Homo sapiens: one gene and its partner. The protein of the gene in region 2 purifies or fractionates together with the protein of the main gene of each other region. This does not show direct contact. Each region holds a gene or a part of one and is shown on either strand. Other genes may lie near its edges. The genes, in order: SNTG2 and EPSTI1.

Evidence for each region.
Region 1: the proteins of EPSTI1 (region 2) and SNTG2 purify together in Homo sapiens (affinity purification with mass spectrometry; 2 studies listed by BioGRID and IntAct, with this or other methods). This does not show direct contact.

The regions. Positions count from the first base shown.
Region 1 is NC_000002.12:1,232,523-1,241,816, reverse strand, and holds part of SNTG2 (gamma-2-syntrophin), read right to left. Parts: intron 3,930-9,294; coding exon 3,800-3,929; intron 2,080-3,799; coding exon 2,041-2,079; intron 1-2,040. UniProt on the Homo sapiens protein: Adapter protein that binds to and probably organizes the subcellular localization of a variety of proteins. May link various receptors to the actin cytoskeleton and the dystrophin glycoprotein complex.
Region 2 is NC_000013.11:42,967,082-42,976,375, forward strand, and holds part of EPSTI1 (epithelial-stromal interaction protein 1), read right to left. Parts: intron 9,042-9,294; exon of another isoform or gene 5,687-9,041; intron 5,665-5,686; exon of another isoform or gene 3,694-5,664; intron 3,591-3,693; exon of another isoform or gene 3,590-3,590; coding exon 3,531-3,589; exon of another isoform or gene 2,546-3,530; intron 2,097-2,545; coding exon 2,013-2,096; intron 1-2,012. UniProt on the Homo sapiens protein: Plays a role in M1 macrophage polarization and is required for the proper regulation of gene expression during M1 versus M2 macrophage differentiation.

The DNA of each region.
Region 1 (9,294 bases), on a different chromosome or scaffold from region 2:
TTAATATGTGGGAGAATTTCACTGAGATGAAGCAAAAACAAGGCCGCCCACTGCCTCTGAGGTCTCTGGAAGATGCTCCTTCAATGTGCTCCATAGCGGAAACTGTGCTCCCTACAGGTTTTTACATTTCTCTGAACCATTATTTCATCATTCTCTCTTGTCAGTTGATGATAAGGAGGATTAAGGGGTGGGGAGAGGGTGAAGGATAGCATTTGGAGATATACTTAATGTTAAATGATGAGTTACTGGGTGCAGCGCACCACATGGTACATGTATACATATGTAACTAACCTGCACGTTGTGCACATGTACCCTGAAACTTAAAGTATAATAATAATAATAAAAAAAAAAGAAAATGCTTTCCTCTCCGGAGCAGTGCTCTTTCCAACATGAGGAGTAATTCCAGTATAGCTACAAAAGTCAGCATTTCTCTGAAACACGTAAAGGCCAAGTCCATAAATGCTGCCCATTCCCACGTATGCTCTCCACTTGCGGACATCACTGTTTAGCATCAAGGATCTGTCTGCAAGGTGACAACCCCTCTGAGGGTCGGGAGAGGACGGCTGTCCTCATGACGAACAAACTGAGAAACAGGGAAGAAGCAGCCAACACTGAGAAATACCAGAAGCTGCGGCTCCTCCTAAGATCTCGGAAGAGTCTCAGCTTTGCCATAAAGAGGATCTCAGGAAACATTTTGCTAATTTTGCGTGTGTGAATAAGATGCAATTTCAAAATGGTAAATTATTCATAGAGATCATGTCAAAACTTTGGCCCACTGTCCCACCAGCCTTGATAAAGGCTGTTTCCTGTGTGAACCATAGAGAGATATGTACTTTGTGGAAAAGTTTCAGAACTTCTGTTTCAAAAACACATAGTAGGGAAATGATATTTTATGTATAAGAATATGAAATGAATCCTATATTAATTTGAAGAATTTATAGAAATATTAATCATAAAATATCTATGTAAACAAAAATAGTTGATGGTAATTTTAGAATAATATTAAAAGAGATAAAAGTTAGAAGAACCATTTATTCTTAGTGTTTCTTTTCTAATGTAGAAATGTTGACTAGAGAGGTTTAATTTAAAACACAGCCCTATTTTCCCATTGTTTTAGTAAATATTTCATAGGCAGAGGACCTGCTCTTCTCAAGTCCTCCATCGTGAATTCAAATATTCTTGCTAAGCACTATTTAAAGTCTTTTGTGCGCTATTTAAAGCAAAGCGAACATGTTTTTCTCAGTTTTCTTAACTTGAGGCTATGATGCATGCTTCCTTACGCCCCTAAGAGATGTAACCAGAAAATGAATGAACTATAAATAACATACTCCCTTACATTACAAGTTAAATCATAAGTTTATTATAAAGGAAACAGAAGAATAACACAGTGGCTTAAAAACTGATTTGGCTGATATTGAAACAGCTTGATTACCATAGAGTTTTCCTAAGTACTCATAGACGTGGGAAGTGAGCAGAAAATCAGGCCTGAGGGTGGCTACAAAGGTAGCTATCCTGAATCCAGGACAACGTTAAGGGCTCTGGGCTCCAGGTGAACAAACTGCCTGGATTTGGGGATGACAGGATCCTACCCACTGGCAATAACACCCACTGGGCCAAAGCCCTCCTGAGAATGAAGCTTTCCTAGTAAGGATTTTATTTAAGAAAATAATATAATGCTTAAAATTTCAAATTACACAGGTGTGTCATCTCAAAGCCCTTCTCAGTTTAAACAATCATATCTAAATCATCATTTAAATCACGATTCTTTACAAAACATAACTGCCAATAGAGAAATAATCTATACACAGGAGATCAGAATGACCTATGCTATTCCCACAGAAAGAGCAGTTTTATAGAATTAACAGGCAGGGCAGAGACCACCAAATGCAGTCTGAAATGTGCTAATGTTTTCCTATCAACATTTTCAAATCAAATTTCAAAAAACCAGAGACTGCTTTTCGAGATGTGTTACATCATGAATCAGAAAATACAAACCCTACCTGATGTGTTACATCATGAAGCAGAAAATACAAACCCTACCTGGTCGGAAGGAGAGCAGCATTTGTTCGCCATCTTCATCTGTGGAGAGAAGGCAGAAGAGTCAGGGCCACAGCCACCAACACCAGGATGGCTCACCTGAGTGACAGCTGGAAGTCATCAGCCACGCTCTGTCCTGGGAAACAGGCCTCTTTAATGACATATTTCCTATCTGAAGACCTAGCCAGAGTCAATACAAACATGGCAGCAGTAGAAAACAACTTTACTAGCAGGCTTCAATTCCTCTTTTTCAAATATCAGCATTTATGTAAGTGAAGTTACACTTCAAGAGCAGGTGCTTAAATTCCAATATCTGAGAAAAGTGAGGAAATGATTTCTGCTCTACATAACCTTGTGAGAGTCAGTATTACTGTGATGGTAATTACGGTGATCACAGTTGATATTCTTTCTTTTATTTAGTTCTCCCAATGACCTATGGAGGTAGATGTTGTTTTCCAAAATTTCACCGAGGAAGTGGAGGTGCAGAATCATAATGTTCCCACAGCCCACAGCCACACAGCCGGGAGGCAGCTCAGAGTCCACATTTCTGTTCTGAAATATTGGGGTGTCTGACTTCTCTGCCCTGCCTATGAGGGCTGATTTGTGAAATGACAGAACTGAAGGGCGCTCCTCGTCACAAACATTTCTGCAAATATAAGTCAAGCACCATCCTTTCTTCCCTATTTATTGAGATAACTTTGGAATTTAAAGTGTTGCGTTTGAAAACTACAATGTTAGGAAGGTCCTGGTACTTCCTTCTCTGCTTGCAGAAAGGAAGCCCCTGAGGTCTTCACAGGAGAAATGTCACACATTGCTGCTTCCCCCAGTGTTAGGTTAACTTCTGTTTTGCAGCCACAGGAAGAAGGGAGGTTGCAAGGGAGACGTGAGGTGGTGGGCAGGGCAGGGGCAGGGCGGGTGCATCTGCAGGGCCGCAGGGTGGGCCACGCCTGGCCAGTCTGCAAGCTGGACCCAGCCTCTGCAGCCTCCAGGCTGCGAAGGAACAGAGCAGGGATCGAAGTGCAATTACAGGGCAACTCAGCTTAGAGGGAGCAAGGGCAGCAAGGCTGGTCCAGGGCCGCCTCCAGGCACGGCCAGTCCTGCCACAGTTGCCAGGGCTGCGGCCACGGCTCCATGTCCGAGTCCAGGCACCCATCACTCCAGGCAACGCCCGTGTCATCAAGTCTTCGTTCCCACCCCATCTCTTTTCATTTCTTTAATTTTTAAAATCCTGTTGACTTTTAATATCAAACATCACTTAAGGGGACAGAATACTTTTTCGTTTCTGGGGGACTGCAGTACAAATTTGAGAAGTAATGTTTTTGCTCAATTATGCCTTTTTCTAAATCTTCATAATGTTTGGGAGAATTATACTTTTAACTCAATTAGGTTTCCCCAACTCAAAATGTCACACTGTATCAATGCATTTGGGTAAAATATAAAATTATGACATATAACTATTTCTGTATATGTGTGTGGAGAGAAAGAGAGAGGAAGGGAGGGAGAGAGACAGAGGCAGACAGAGGGGAGGAGGAAGACAAAACCAGATGGGAAATTCTCAGCTGTTAGACATTGCCTTACTCTTTGATTTGGAAACATTCTGATGGCTTCATTTTTAATGTTTTTAGACATAGATTTGACACATTGAAACAAGTACATGATTTTCTGTTTCGGGTTAATCATAAATCATCAGAAACATGATGTCTCCATTATTTTTCATGCACGAATGAGCATCAGCAGAGACTCAGAAACACCGTGTGCTCACGTTCTGAAGTGTCAGCTCCCTGATGTTGGCTGAGACCGCCCGCAGCCAGTCGGTGCCATCCTGGGCTGTGTAAAACCGGAGGATCCCAGAGCTGACTCCGTCCAGGGCGAGCACCTCGAACGCATTCCACCTGGGGAGGGAGAGAGCTGTCCAGGAGGCCCCGCAGCGACGGGAGCGGGCCTGCCTCCGTGAGTTTCGAGGCTGATGCTCAGCAGGGCTCTACCCTGGACCCAGGACATGGGGCAACTGCACCACTTCCTCAGGCGCCTCAGTACAGTCAGCAGGCTCGCTGAGACCAAGACCAAACCCCGAATTCCCTTGGTAACAGGAGCTACTTCTAATTCGATGAAACATGAAAAGCACTTTGTCAAGGAAAGAACAGTGCTCCTGAAATTCTGGAGTTATTGTCTGCAGGATTCTTACTGGTTATTCTTTCGAAGACCCTTTGGATGGAGCACTTAAAGCTCCTGATGGGGTGAGGCTGGAGCAGCCCAGCACCCTCTGCACTCAGCATCCACCCTTCTCTAGGACCACCTGTGTGCTTCTGATTGACAGGGGAGCTTTGGGAGAACATAGTCCCCTTCCACTGCTCCATGACACTCCACTTGCTGAGAACTCAATCATGGCAAAGTATTAACAACCAACCGTCTCAAATTCAGTAGTTCTTCCCTGTCATGCAATATTTTTTAAAAACATACTTTACATATGCCTATTTGCAAAAGAGAAATGTCATGTACACTTTTATAGACTTTTTCTTAAGAAAATAGTGCATATTGGCCGGGCGCAGTGGCTCACGCCTATAATCACAGGACGTTGGAAGACTGAGGTAGGTGGATCACTTGAGGTCAGGAGTTCGAAATCAGCCTGGCCAACATGGTGAAGTCCCATCTCTACGAAAAATACAAAAATTAGCCGGGCATGGTGGCACACACCTGTAGCTCCAGCTACTCGGAAGGCTACGGCAGGAGAATCTCCTGAACCCAGGAGGCAGAGGTTGCAGTGAGCCGAGATCACACCACTGCACTCCAGCCTGGGCAACAGAGTGAGACCCTATCTGAAAAAAAAAAGAAAAAAAGAAAACAATGCATATTAATGTATATGACTCATAATACCTCCATGGTCTCAAGCAGCTAACTGAAGATAAAATACAGAACAAAGCAAACATATTTTTTTAAAAAAATAAGTCATCACTAAGCTATGTTCTAATAATCTTTCAAATGTGAGTGTCATCGCTGCTTTCTTAGGCAAGGTGGGGTGTGTAGGAGAAGGGGTAGGAAACAGAGATGGTATAACACAGTTCTGCATATTTTTGAGCCAAATCTATCAGACCAGAGTTTGCTATTTTAAAAGTCATTCTTTTAAAAAGCTGACATCCCTGTCTAGGGGTCATTCTCATTCTAATTAGTGTTTCTTGAATCAGAATGTGAGGTTTATCTACTTGTGGCTGATATTCTGCCTGATGGCGATGAACAAGGTACTCTTGACTTGGCAGGAGGACAGAGGTGAAGGTGGAGGTGACTGTGTGGAGCCGGAGAGGGGAAGAAGCCAGAGGAAGCAGGTCCCCTGCATGGGGAGGGCAGGCAGCTCTGCCTCCACCTTCGCACAGCCCTTTCTGATCACCTTTCCTGGTCCTCCTGGGGAGCACCTGTCCCTCAGGATCCATCGCTTCCCGTGGGGCCTTTGGTCCTGGATGTCTGCTATAATAAATTAATTTTTACACTTCAAAATGCTGGGAGACTATTTTAGGCAGATTGTGTAATATTCCACATGAATTAGGTGCTTATTAAATATTGACAGACTTATATCTACACTTTTGTCCAAGTATCCATTAATTCTTATTAAAGTAAGTGCTAACTAAAAATGGGTTCATTGCCATCATTTCTCATTTGTTCATGTTAACTGGTGCGACATATACAAAGCAAGGCTGACCTTAATCTAGTGGTTAATAAACAGCTGGGTCAAGTAGATTATTGCGGACGACAGCCAAGTTCCCTGGCTCCCCACATGAAGAGGTCAGAGACTATTATTTTTAGGCATATTTTACATTGAGCTACAGGACACACACACACGCACACAACTCACCAGTGAACACCTCGATAAACAGTCATGTATTCCATACTCTTGGCCAACCAACTCTCAGACCAAAAACAGACTTTAGAAGAATCCTCAAAAGTTCCCTGTGTCCCATCCTCCAATTTTCCCCATCTCAGAGCTCTACGCTTTTATTCTTTCAGAAGAGCCTGTTCTTCTCCAAAGGCCTGGGGAGGAACAGGGGGTGGTGCCAGTGTGGGCCAGGGGCAGCTTTTCCTGGATCCAGCTAGACTAGGGGGCCTGCAGGGATCCTGGGGCAGCGTGGGGGTAAGGGTGCCTCCTCTCATGAATCGGGGGTGCCTCGTGGGGCCTGCAGGGACCTCAGGGCAGCGTGGGGCAGGGGTCCCCCCTCTCATGAATCGGGGGTGCCTGGTGGGGCCTGCAGGGACCTCAGGGCAGCGTGGGGCAGGGGCCCCCCTCTCATGAATAGGGTGTGCCTGGTGGGGCCTGCAGGGACCTCAGGGCAGCATGGGGTAGGGGCGCCCCCTCTCATGAATCGGGGGTGCCTGGTGGGGCCTGCAGGGACCTCAGGGCAGCGTGGGGCAGGGGTCCCCCCTCTCATGAATCGGGGGTGCCTGGTGGGGCCTGCAGGGACCTCAGGGCAGCGTGGGGCAGGGGCCCCCCTCTCATGAATAGGGTGTGCCTGGTGGGGCCTGCAGGGACCTCAGGGCAGCATGGGGTAGGGGCGCCCCCTCTCATGAATCGGGGGTGCCTGGTGGGGCCTGTAGGGACCTCAGGGCAGAGTGGGGTAGGGGCGCCCCCTCTCATGAATCGGGGGTGCCTGGTGGGGCCTGCAGGGACCTCAGGGCAGCATGGGGGCAGGGGTCCCCCCTCTCATGAATTGGGGGTCCCTGGTTGCGCGTGAGGGCGTGTGAAGGACACGCATGGTCACCGCTTGGCTCCAGCTCACATGTACTAACGACAGTGTCTTCTCAGGGAGTTGGCATTTCCTGATTCTCAGGGTTGGTGACGTATGCACCAAATGCATGGATGACTGAACACTGGGTGCTCTCAGCAGGGTCAGTACTGTGGTCATCCTCGTAAAGTCAGTGGTGAGAAGGAATCTGAGTCCAGAGTCCTAACTCTGCCTTTGGAGGTTTACACCATCATTGATGTAGCAGGAATAAGATGTGAGTAGAGACAGTGGACCCAGGCTCCATGAAGGACCCTTTATCGATGCTGTGGTCTTGAGAAAGATCATCAGCTTTGCCCCCTGAGGCAGTGAATGCACGTGGAGCCCCAGAGGCTCACGGACTCGCACGAGGGGCAGACGGCTGTGTCCTGCAATAAAAAGGAAGGCGTCTGCAGTCCAGGCACGTTTATGCCATAGCTTCATGAGGCAGGCTGGACATCTCACCTCTGAGCTGGGCTTTCCTTGTCCGTACGATGGGCTTCAAATGCCAACCGTACCACAAAATAGGAATACTGAGAGGAACAAATGGGATAACTGAAACAAAGTTATTTGTAAGCCCGTAAGTACCATATAAACATTATTAGTCTGTAATTTATCAAAGAAAGCAATAAAAATTAAGTATCAAATGAACAGAAACTGTGAAAGTTGTTGACATGAATGCTGATGGCAGATACTAACATGTTAATGAAACAGGGAAAGAAAGTTCACAGCGTGGCTCACTGTTGGTTCACTGTTTGGTTTATTGTTATAGAAGCCGGGTAACTAGTGTAAGTCACGCAATCTGCTTTCAGGCACGTCTGGATGCAAGATCAGGAGCCGCTTCTTCCAGGGCATTTCTGGGCCTTTGTTTCCTCCGAGTTTCACGGTTTCCTCCGAGTTTCCTCCGTGGCTCACAGTTGGAACCCGGCCTCTCTACCCGCCTCATGGTGGCCGCTCAGGCCTTTTAGGATGGTGTTCACGTGGCCAAGGTCATTATCGGAGCTAAAATTCACAGAGCATCTGCTGCTCAGGAGCTAACATGCTCTTTGATGGACACACATGAGATTGTAGGAAGCTGCTGTAAGCAAAGCCACACCAAGTGAAGGCAGAGCGCTTGGCACCCCGGGGTCCACCGAGAAGAAACCAAACCAGCTCCCAGACACTCGCCATCCATGGGGAAGTCAAGCACTGACTGTGTCGGCACTTTTGAAAAGTCTACCCTCCTCCCAGGGTTTCCTCGTGCCCTTAGAGAATTTTTCAATTCCAAAGAGAAAACTGAAAATAGACTTATACTCTAGAAAGTGAATCAATTCAGTTTTTGGCTAAGAGAAATAAATTTATTCCAATAACGTTCAAAGCACATGTCTTAACGTATTAGGACATTAAGGAATTGAAGTTACGTGCTCAGGTCTCCACCTCCTGTGGAGGACAGCCAGTCTGTTTAAGCCGTTCTTCCTGCGCTCTTGACTGTGGGCTCAGTGCCAGCCTCAACCCTGCACCCTGCGGCTCCTGCCGGGAAAAGCCCCACAGCCCAGCTCTCATGTGCCCGGTCACACTGCCTGCCTTCGCTGCGGTCTTCCTGTCCACATGCAGAAAGGCCTCCGAATCCCGCCCACACCGCTGGGAATCTTCCTGTCACAAAACACACCTCAACAGATTTGACCCTTTTTCAAATCATCTGTTTCAGCGGAAACCAATCACAGAGCATTAGCAGTTGTCATTAAAGCCCCAAACCGAGACCCCTGCTACATCCGCTACCAATGACCACTCTTCCAACCTTCTGCTTCCCTTGTGCTGTGGGATTCCAGTAACTATAAAATTTGACCCTAAAAACTGAGAATTCTTAATTGCTCGTCAAAGCTTCAATGCCGGAGAAAGTCAAAATGTGTAAATCGCCTTTTTAATAAGCTGTCCAGTTTTTAAAGAATAAATACATTGGAACGTACAAAATTTAACCAAGGAAGCTTTCATCCATAAATGATGGCTGGTGGCCTTCATTACAACCACAGCCTGTCACTCCCTGTCGGCTCTGGCCACCACCTCCCTCTGTGCCTGTGGTAACAGAGAGGAAAGGTGTGCATTGCACACATGCCTGTTTACTTTAAGCCTTCATGCTTTGGAAAATAAGGAGAGTGTGCATGTGTGTGTGTGTGCATGTGTGTGTATTTTAGCTCATGACTGAAAATTACGAGTACTCGAGACAAAAACAGAACGTGTATGTTTCAGAATTTGAAAAATCTTGAAATTTCGTTCACATATTTTATTTTAAAACTGTCTCTGTAGTATATTATTTTTTAGTACAATTTAGAAAAATATATTTTTTCTACTTCCCTGTCATGCAGTGGCATTTCTAAATAGTCCATATTAAATATTAATAAAGAGGGCTAATTTAAGTTCAGGAACTATGTAGTAACTTGTTCATTAAAAAGTCATGGTGGGCTGGGCATGGTGGCTCATGCCTGTAATCCCAGCACTTTGAGAGGCTGAGGCCAGCAGATCACCTGAGGTCAGG
Region 2 (9,294 bases):
CATGCTCGTTAAGAGTCATCACCAATCCCTAATCTCAAGTAATCAGGGACACAAACACTGCGGAAGGCCGCAGGGTCCTCTGCCTAGGAAAACCAGAGACCTTTGTTCACTTGTTTATCTGCTGACCTTCCCTCCACTATTGTCCCATGACCCTGCCAAATCCCCCTCTGTGAGAAACACCCAAGAATTATCAATAAAAAAATAAATTAAAAAAAAAAAAAAAAAAAAAAGAAAATCAGCTGGAGACCTCAACCTGCATTTTTAAGAGTCTGAGGGTCTTATTGGATTCATGCCTAGAACAGTTAGAGCCTAAAGGTATAAGGCTGTTGTCCATTGGCCACTGAGATGAGTCCTCAAGAAGAGGTAGCTACATTACAAATGGCCCACATTCACAGTTTATGAAAAGAAAGAATGCACAAGTATTTCCTGTACTTTTAATGTGATTCTCATGAAAGAGAATGCCAACCTAAAGCCATCTAAAGGGACTTGCCTATGAGGGCCATGTCAAGAACAATGGAACCCTAAAAGGAGTCTACCAAGAGCCAACAGTGAGGCCAAGCCCTGCCGACAGGAGAGGAAATCGTCTGTATCAGGGAAATCCAGGTGGGAGATGGGTAGCAGAGAGTGGGGGATGCTGAAAAACTCGAAGATTCCCAGGAAGAAGAACGAGCAGTCAGTGTAAACCTAGGCTCAAAGAAACAAGGATCACTGCATTACGAACCCCGAACTCTCTTATCTCCCTCCACTTCCCCCTTCAATCCCAGAAAGGTCAGAATCTGGGAACAGAGCCATGAATAGAGAAAAGTCCAGCCACACCCTGTTCTACTTGCTGGATTCCTACCTGAAACAGGCCTGGGTTAGAGCAGGGGAGAAGCTCTCATCTCCATTAGTAACAGAATTTTGATCAGTACCTAAGACTGAACATTAATTACTGAAATGAGACTGTTTTAGGCCTAGAATTAGCTAGGTCACTCTACTGTTTGAAAGAGACCAAAAAGCTTTAATTTCTTACATCATCCAAAAAGCCTGAGAAAGACTGTTCTCACATAGCCAATCTCAGGGGCCAAGCTAGGAAAGATTAAAGCTGTTTTCTGATTGTACCCTTCGAGTCTGGCTCATTTGCACAAAGGAGGCACTTGAGATTAGCCCTTTTCACGAAATACAGTGGGATGATGATAATATTACTATTACTTCCTCCCATTAAATAATTTCCAAATTAGATTATTTTTACCTATGTTCTTGGTGGGGGGGCAGGGTGTGGGGAGGGAACTTCTCTAAAACTATCACAACCGTAAGTGGCCCCTGACACAAGACATGCTTGTATTAACTAAATCTGTGGACACTGTGTGTCCAACCCTTTAAATTTTCGGCTGCTGATAGAAGAGAAAAAGCAAAGAAAAGATGTGAATGATTCCCATTAGGTGGCATCCCTTCTGAATGATTCAAACACCGGCAAAGGCGGCCCAGACAATTCATCACACTGGCAGCACCTGCTCCAGAGGCCCAGAGGTCTCTATCTGTAGAATAAAAACACAGGTGATGTTTCTCTTATACCCACCACCGGGTTTCCAGCTCACTCTCATCTCCCTCTTGGAACTGACTCTCCACTCCTTTTCTTCAGATTAACATTTAACTGCCATGATTAATATGCTTGTGCCAGCATTTACTCCCATCCTGACTAGTGCTATGACAGGGCATATGCAGCGCCCCAGGTAAGCTTTTTCAGAGTCAATCATCTAAGAGGCTCTAAATTATTTGGCAATTAAGCCATCACTGTGTTCCCATAGAACTCTGGCATTACAGGTTTGCTACTTGCAGAAAATCAGAAAAAAAAAAAAATACACACACACACACACACACACACACACACACAATTAAATGCATTCCACCCAAGCAGCACAATGACCAAACAAACTACAATGGACATTCACAGACAGACATATGCAAGCTGCTTACAGGATCCATAGGTGGCCCCGCCCTCCCTCATTCCGGCAGCGGCTGTGCTTGCTTACCTAGCCGTCTGGGCACCAGGTGAACCGGTTTAGCTCTGTTCTGCTCCTTCCACTTCTCCAGGTTGGCCAGCTCCTGCTCCGCAACTAAGCCAGGCGAGAAATATCAAATCGTCAATTATTAGACTTCTAAAAGAAAACCAGTCCCTTCAAAGCATAAGAAACAACTATTAGAAGGCAATTAACTATATGTGAGCATGAGTGAACAAGGCTTCCAGGTTAGAAACACAATATTCAGCCCTGACCCGTACAGGTCATCCTGGGCCCGGCCCTGTGGCACATTCTCACCAAGAGTCAGCACAGAGGGTTCGAATTTGAAAAACCACCTGGGCTCCTACTAAAAGAAGTATAGATTTTCCTACCATTCTGGCATTTTTAAAACTCTATATCAAGTTAATTTTTAAAGTTACCTATAGAAAATGTGTGCAAAACTAGAATATTTTCACGTCAATAAGAACTTTCCACACATAGGTAAACATATCCCCAGAGAATTCTGATGCCCATACTCGCTTTATCTTCAATGCTCCCAAGCTTACTGCGACTCTAGGGAATGAGGGCTCGGTGCTACAGGTGGAGACCCTTGCTCTGGTTTCAGGCACTCCAGACCACTGTGCAGAGTCGGCTTCCTGGGGAGCAGGGCTCATTTCCTAAATGTTCACTCTGCACGACAGCAGGGGGCGCCAGAGAGAAATTAGTTCTGTCACTCCAGCGCCTCCCCTTATCTCCTCATGAGACCTGTTTCAAATGTCCATTACTAGAAAAACAAATTCTGAAACATTTCGAAATCCAGACCACATTGAGACTTAATCTCCTATTAAGTATTTAAATCAAAAGCTTGTAAGATACCAGAACTGCTGGCAGTTCCCATAGTCCCTGCATGGCTGTGATTGTCATATTCTGCACTGACCCGCTGTCCCACCCGGAGCTACATGTCCGGTGGAGACTCTTTAGAGAGCTTTTTCCCTTTTGTGCCTTTCTGTCCATCATTAGTCATGAAGTTAAATTTCCTACCAATCATGTAATAAAGGAGACCATCGAATTTCAGCATAGCCCCACAGCTGGACTTGAGCAAGCCTACAATTTCTTTGTGAACTAAATGAACTTTAGTTCTCTTCCACCTCTAAAGGATAATGCTATAACTTTAAATGGCAGCATTTATATTTACTGTACATCAATTAAACATGTTATGTACGCATTAAGTACAGAGAGCACAAAAACGAGTAAGATGTGGTCCCTACCCTCAAGGAGGTTTATTGGCAATAAGTGTAAAGTTGTTCAAGCCAACAGAAATCCAGGATCTACCATCATGTCATGAGTTCTGTTACTAACGTAGAGAAACAAACTTAGAAGTGTTAATAGTAGAATATTTTTAAAGGTATAATCAAAACTAAAAAAAACAAAAAACCTTGATGAGATTTGGTGAGTCTATATAAATGAGAAAATAAAAATACTTCACACCAAAACAAACCAATTGTAAAAAGAGAGAAGCATTCTGAATGTTAAATGAATGACTATACATACTTCTTTGTATCTCATTTCTCCGGTTTATATTTGGTGCTATCAAGGTGTATGCACTTGTGCTAAAAGGAAGAGAAAAAAAAATGCTTATTACCATGAGAAACTACCAATGCATATAAGCCACCAGATATTTTTCCTTCTATTATACTGTATTTATGATCATTACCATCAAATAGGCACTATGAAAGATAATCTTCTTAAGACCCTGATCTGTTCTCTGGGACCTCACAATCTTGATGTCAAAGTAAAACAAAGGACATGGCCAAATATGAAAATATAAAGCATTCGATGAGTGACAAGTGACTAGTTGGTGTACTGTCCTTGTAGGGCTCCACCGTTCCTCTAGGTGGTGCTTGTGAGTAAATTCCTTTAAGATGGCTTTAGATTGGCATTCTCTTCTGTGTGACCACACCGGGGTACAGGAAACATTGGTACATTTTCTGTTCCCACAGACTGATCCTAGAGGCCATTTGCAATGCAGCCACCTCCTCTTGATGATCTGAGTAACTAACTGGCTTTTAGGCTTTGACTTTTCTAGGCCTATGTCCACTGGTCTCTTCTTCTCCTAGGGACACAGGTTGAGCATAATCAGGGGCTCGGAGAAGCAAGGAGTCATTTCAACCAGGCGGATCAGGGAAGACTTTTTAAGAAAAATATTCACCTCTGTGACACTAGGAAGCTGTTAAAATATTGTGAGCTTTTGAGGGCAGAGAGTGTGCTTGATTGATGTGTATTCCAAGCCCCTGGCACAGTGTCTGGCACAAAGACATTGGCTGCTTGATAAATGTGGGCTGAATTAAAACAAAATGATGCTACAGACCCAGCCTGTGAGTCTGTGTGGGGGTGGCTCTTTTTTGAGATGATGCACGTGATCCCACAAGAACATGAATACTCCATTAAGCAATAATATAGCACAGCAACAGACTGCAGCATACATGTAGGTACAGTTTTAAGAGAAATGCTGTGGATAAACACAACCAGCTTCTAACTGTAGGATTTAAGAGGGAGGGAAAAAACCCCACCCAGATACTCTTGGAAGTCTCTCTCTTCTACCTGAATACACAATTTCAAAGGGCAAATTAGCAAAGATTGAACTGTAGAGGCCAAAAGCACTGATCAACAGAAGCCATTTCCTTCCTTATCTCATTATTTTTCTAGCAGCTAGCCTTCAGCCAGCTTCAAACTGGGCTTTAATTTTAGACTTGTAAATGTGAGGTGTGCAACAGCCTTTGCATGCAAATGGGGCTGCTGGATGCCCAATTACTTAATGTATATCAGCAGACGTTGCATGTGTAGCCTAGCATGCATACAACGTTATGAATACAAAATTAGGAGACTGCCACTGGCAATTAATCCCTTGTCCATTGCACATTCTTTGTACACCCTAAGAAACATTTTTCACTTCTGAATTGCCAGTACTTTTTAGGAGCTTGGAAGCTACAATCCCGTGGGTAGTCCCTGGAAACTTGAATATGATGCAATGGTGAGCCATGCTACAGAGACTGAAAGCTGAAACATCAGATACGAGACGTAAATGCCAATCATGAAATTGCTACACAATCTTCAATGTCTGCTAACATTGTGGTATAGAGCTTCTCTCTATACCACAAATTTGACTATACTCCAGATCAGTAGTTCTCAGCCTTTATCGTGCATCATAATCACCAGGAGGGCTTGTCCGCGAGCTTGAGAGTTTCTAATTCAGTAGCCTGCGACTGGGTCAAATAACTTACATTTTTAACAAGTTCCAAGATGATGCTGTTCTTGATCTAGGTACCACACTTGGAAAACCACTACTATAGAGCAATCAAGCTATCTTAGAACATTTGGGATAAAAGAAAACTTAGGTATTCATAAATCACTGGTAAAGACACAGAGGTTGAATCTCAGGCCAAAGATCACCAGGTCAATTGAGCAACACTGATGAGACTCCAGTCTAAGACTTTTGACTTAGATCAGTTTTCTGTCTGCAGCTAACTTTTCAACTCAATGTGCAAAGCATAAAATATGACCATCCTTTAACTTTAGTCCCTTGATAGACTTCCAAACAATGCAACCTACTTAACTGGGCACTTATTATGGATTTATTGTATTAGGGGCTTGTAGAGAGTGAGGGGAGATTCCAGAACAGGGATACTAATCACTTTAACAGAACTTACACTTTAGTTAGGAACAAGTCAAGAAACCACAAAAGCACCCCACGAGAATATCCAACCACTCAACATGAGTTCTGGATGGGGAAAAAAACAAAAATAAATAAATAAAAAATAAATTAAAAAAGAATACCCAAACAAGTCTTAAAGTGGGAATGATGTAAGTACTCAGAGATCCAAAACAGTGGAGATTCATAGAGACCTCAGAAGAGTAAAAAACTGAATAGCACGAAATAAGAATAGTAAGTTGAGGCTTAAAGAATAGGATCTGAAATAGCAAAAGTGTTTCTTTGCCAGGACTTTGCCAAAAGCAGCTTCACAGAGAATTTTCCAAGTCCATGAGTCTCTCTTACGGAAATTTTGCAAAAGGTTTGGAGAGAAAAATCAACTCATTTGTAAAAGATTGTATTCTACAATATCTAATCTGGTTAAGTTTTTAAGTCCGACATCATACTAGAATCTTCCATCTTAAGAATAGGACTTCAGTCAATCTATGGCCAATGTGTGTAGCTTACAGGTACCTAATAGAGAAACATAAAATAAAGGGAAAGAATTAGCTCTGAATTTAGAGGGTTTTTACTGAAAGCATTTTAGCATAAACCCAGGCAGTGGTCCCAGTAATAAACGTTTTATGTAAATTTTATGTGAATTGCTCAGCAACCTTCTCAGCAATATTTTATTGACTGAAAATGCCAAATCTGAAACATGTTATAATAGTCCCAAGAAAGCATTGCCAAGTAAATGGTAAGGAACTTAGCTTCTATTTCTATTTCTTAATATAAGAAGAAGAGCTTAAGTCAAAGGATATGCTTTTTATTTTTTAATATCATGTGTCAGAGTGTAATGCCTTAGTAGATACAAATATTCATCCCTTCTTTCTTAGCTTTCTCTTGACATGAAGAGCAAGTATAATTTATTAATGTTTTCAGCCAATTAGTTTGTACCCACAGCAAAGGCCTTTGCTGTTTTAACCTATGTGCTATCTCTTCCAACAGCCTGACTCTCAAAGTTGCTAATCTAGACAAGCCCAACAACCAACATTTCGCATTCTTGTCATTTCCTGATTAAGCAACATTCAAGCCACTGAAATAAATATATATATTTGAAAATGAGTCTCCTTAATTACCTCATTGAAATTTAATGAAAGATCTCAATTTGTAAGATTATTTTCACTTTCCAACAGCGCACATCCGTGAGATATACTGAGGGAGAATATATGAAAGAACAGACAAGATAAAATGTTTTTCTGCACCATAAGAAACATAAAATAAAAAGATATTCAAGAAATGTTTGGCCAAGCGCGGTGGCTCATGCCTGTAATCTCAGCACTTTGGGGGGCTGAGGCGGGTGGATCACTTGAGGTCAGGAGTTCAAGACCAGCCTGGCCAACATGGTAAAACCCTGTCTCTACTAAAAATACAAAAATTAGCCGGGTGTGATAGCACACGCCTGTAATCCCAGCTACTCGGGATGCTGAGGCAGGAGAATCGCTTGATCCCAGGGGGCAGAGGTTGCAGTGAGCTGCGATCATGCCACTGCACTCCAGCCTGGCCGATAACAGTGAAACTCTGTCTCAAAAAAAAAGAAAAAGAAAAAGAAAAGAAATGTTTTCCTGGCCGGGCGCGGTGGCTCACGCCTGTAATCCCAGCACTTTGGGAGGCCAGGGCGGGCGGATCACGAGGTCAGGAGATTGAGACCATCCTGGCTAACACGGTGAAACCCCGTCTCTACTAAAAATACAAAAAAAATTAGCCGGGCGTGGTGGTGGGCGCCTATAGTTCCAGCTACTTGGGAGGCTGAGGCAGGAGAATGGCGTGAACCAGGGAGGCGGAGCTTGCAGTGAGCCGAGATTGCGCCACTGCACTCCCGCCTGGGCGACAGAGCAAGACTCCGTCTCAAAAAAAAAAAAAAAAGTTTTCCTTGCGAGGTCTCTCGAGTTACACAACTGCATCTTGTGTGTACATTCTTGCACAATTTTTATAACTTTTTATCAATAAGTACTCTGAAAAAATGTTATGTTGAAGTTATCAAAAATATCTTGGCTGGCTAAAAGTATTACATAACAATATCCCCTGGTGTGTACAAACTGCACCAGATGTAATTTAAATTTGTAATTAGGAGCAACACTGGTTTGACAGAAAAAGAAATGCAGTTAAGAGCAAAAGTTCGGAAAGAGAAAATTAAGTGAAAAACATAATTTCAAGCAGAATAGTAGACATGTAAAGTCTACAGTCCTGCAAAAAGTTGAAGTTTTCATAGTTCAAGAAAATCTTATCCTTGGGTATATATAAATTGAAAAAAAAAGACTTAGAGATAATCAAAGGCATTTCGATACTTATCTTTCCAGATAAGACATTCCATATTGGTTTTTGTTACATGACCTTCAATGTAAGAATCAGAAACTTACTGTTTTCAGTCAACATTGAGTCAAAACTTTTGAGGCATTTAGGTTTCCAAAAGTTTGTTCATACATAGATCAAATTCCCAAGAATAATAGAAAATGACAAGACCAGGCCGAGCGAATTACCCTTGACCCCTAAGCCTATATTATACCACCCCTGATCAAGTATTCCACATCTCCAGTGTGGAAACATTTATGAATTGTCTTTGGCCTCAGAAACTACAGAGGCTAAGATACTGTCTGCACACCCAAGAAGCTGATGTGTAATTGATTAGTTCTTTCATCAGCACAACTCATTGCCTCTGTTAGACGGCTGAATACAGACACAGTGGGTAAAGACAGATAAATAAGCAGGAAATCATCGGGGCCTTTGTTTATAGGATGCCTTTAAGAAAATGAGAGGCATACACACCCAGGATCCCCATGGCTTACTGAGATATTGTAAATTCATGCAAACTAGAAAAAAAGTGCTGCTTCTTTCAGGTGGAGGTAATCCCACACTAAGATACATGGTTTGGTATGTATCTCAGCCACAAATCACACCTTAGCTGGGCAAGTGTGTGTAGTCACCAATCTGCACAACCATATAGAATCGACCTGAGATGATGTATTTCTTCACTTAAACACACACACACACATAAGTAAAAGCCACACAAAAAAAAGTTAGCAAGAAGGAGTCACACTAAAGATATAAAGAGTGTATATGAAGTACAATATTGTAGAGACTCACCATCTTTAAGAGGCCAAAAACCAATGATGGGACCATCGTTGAGATGGAGACCAACTGGTAGGTATACTTACAAAATGTCTTGTAACTACTTCCTCAGTAAAAATAACTGTCAGAAATTCATATTTTCAGAACATAGAGATGTCAGGTCTGGGATTTGATTGGATTCCACTTACAAGCTAATAAGTTAGCCTGTTACTGTTTCACAGACACTGGCAGAAGACATGAAATTCCTGGATCAGAGTCAAAGACTTTATTACTGATGGCACAGTAGGCAGCATGAGCACCAGCTTATTTACATCTATTCTCTCTGGCCTCCAGTCTTATGATGGGCGCAACAGGATGGATGCTGCACACATGGTGTGTTTGCATTGCAGCTGATAAAATCCTTCGGGAATACACCATTTTTACAGCAGATAGTAAGTGAGCCTGGTCTTTGTCCTGGGAGAACAAACCTTATCTCTCAAGGTTCCCAGCTAAATAAAT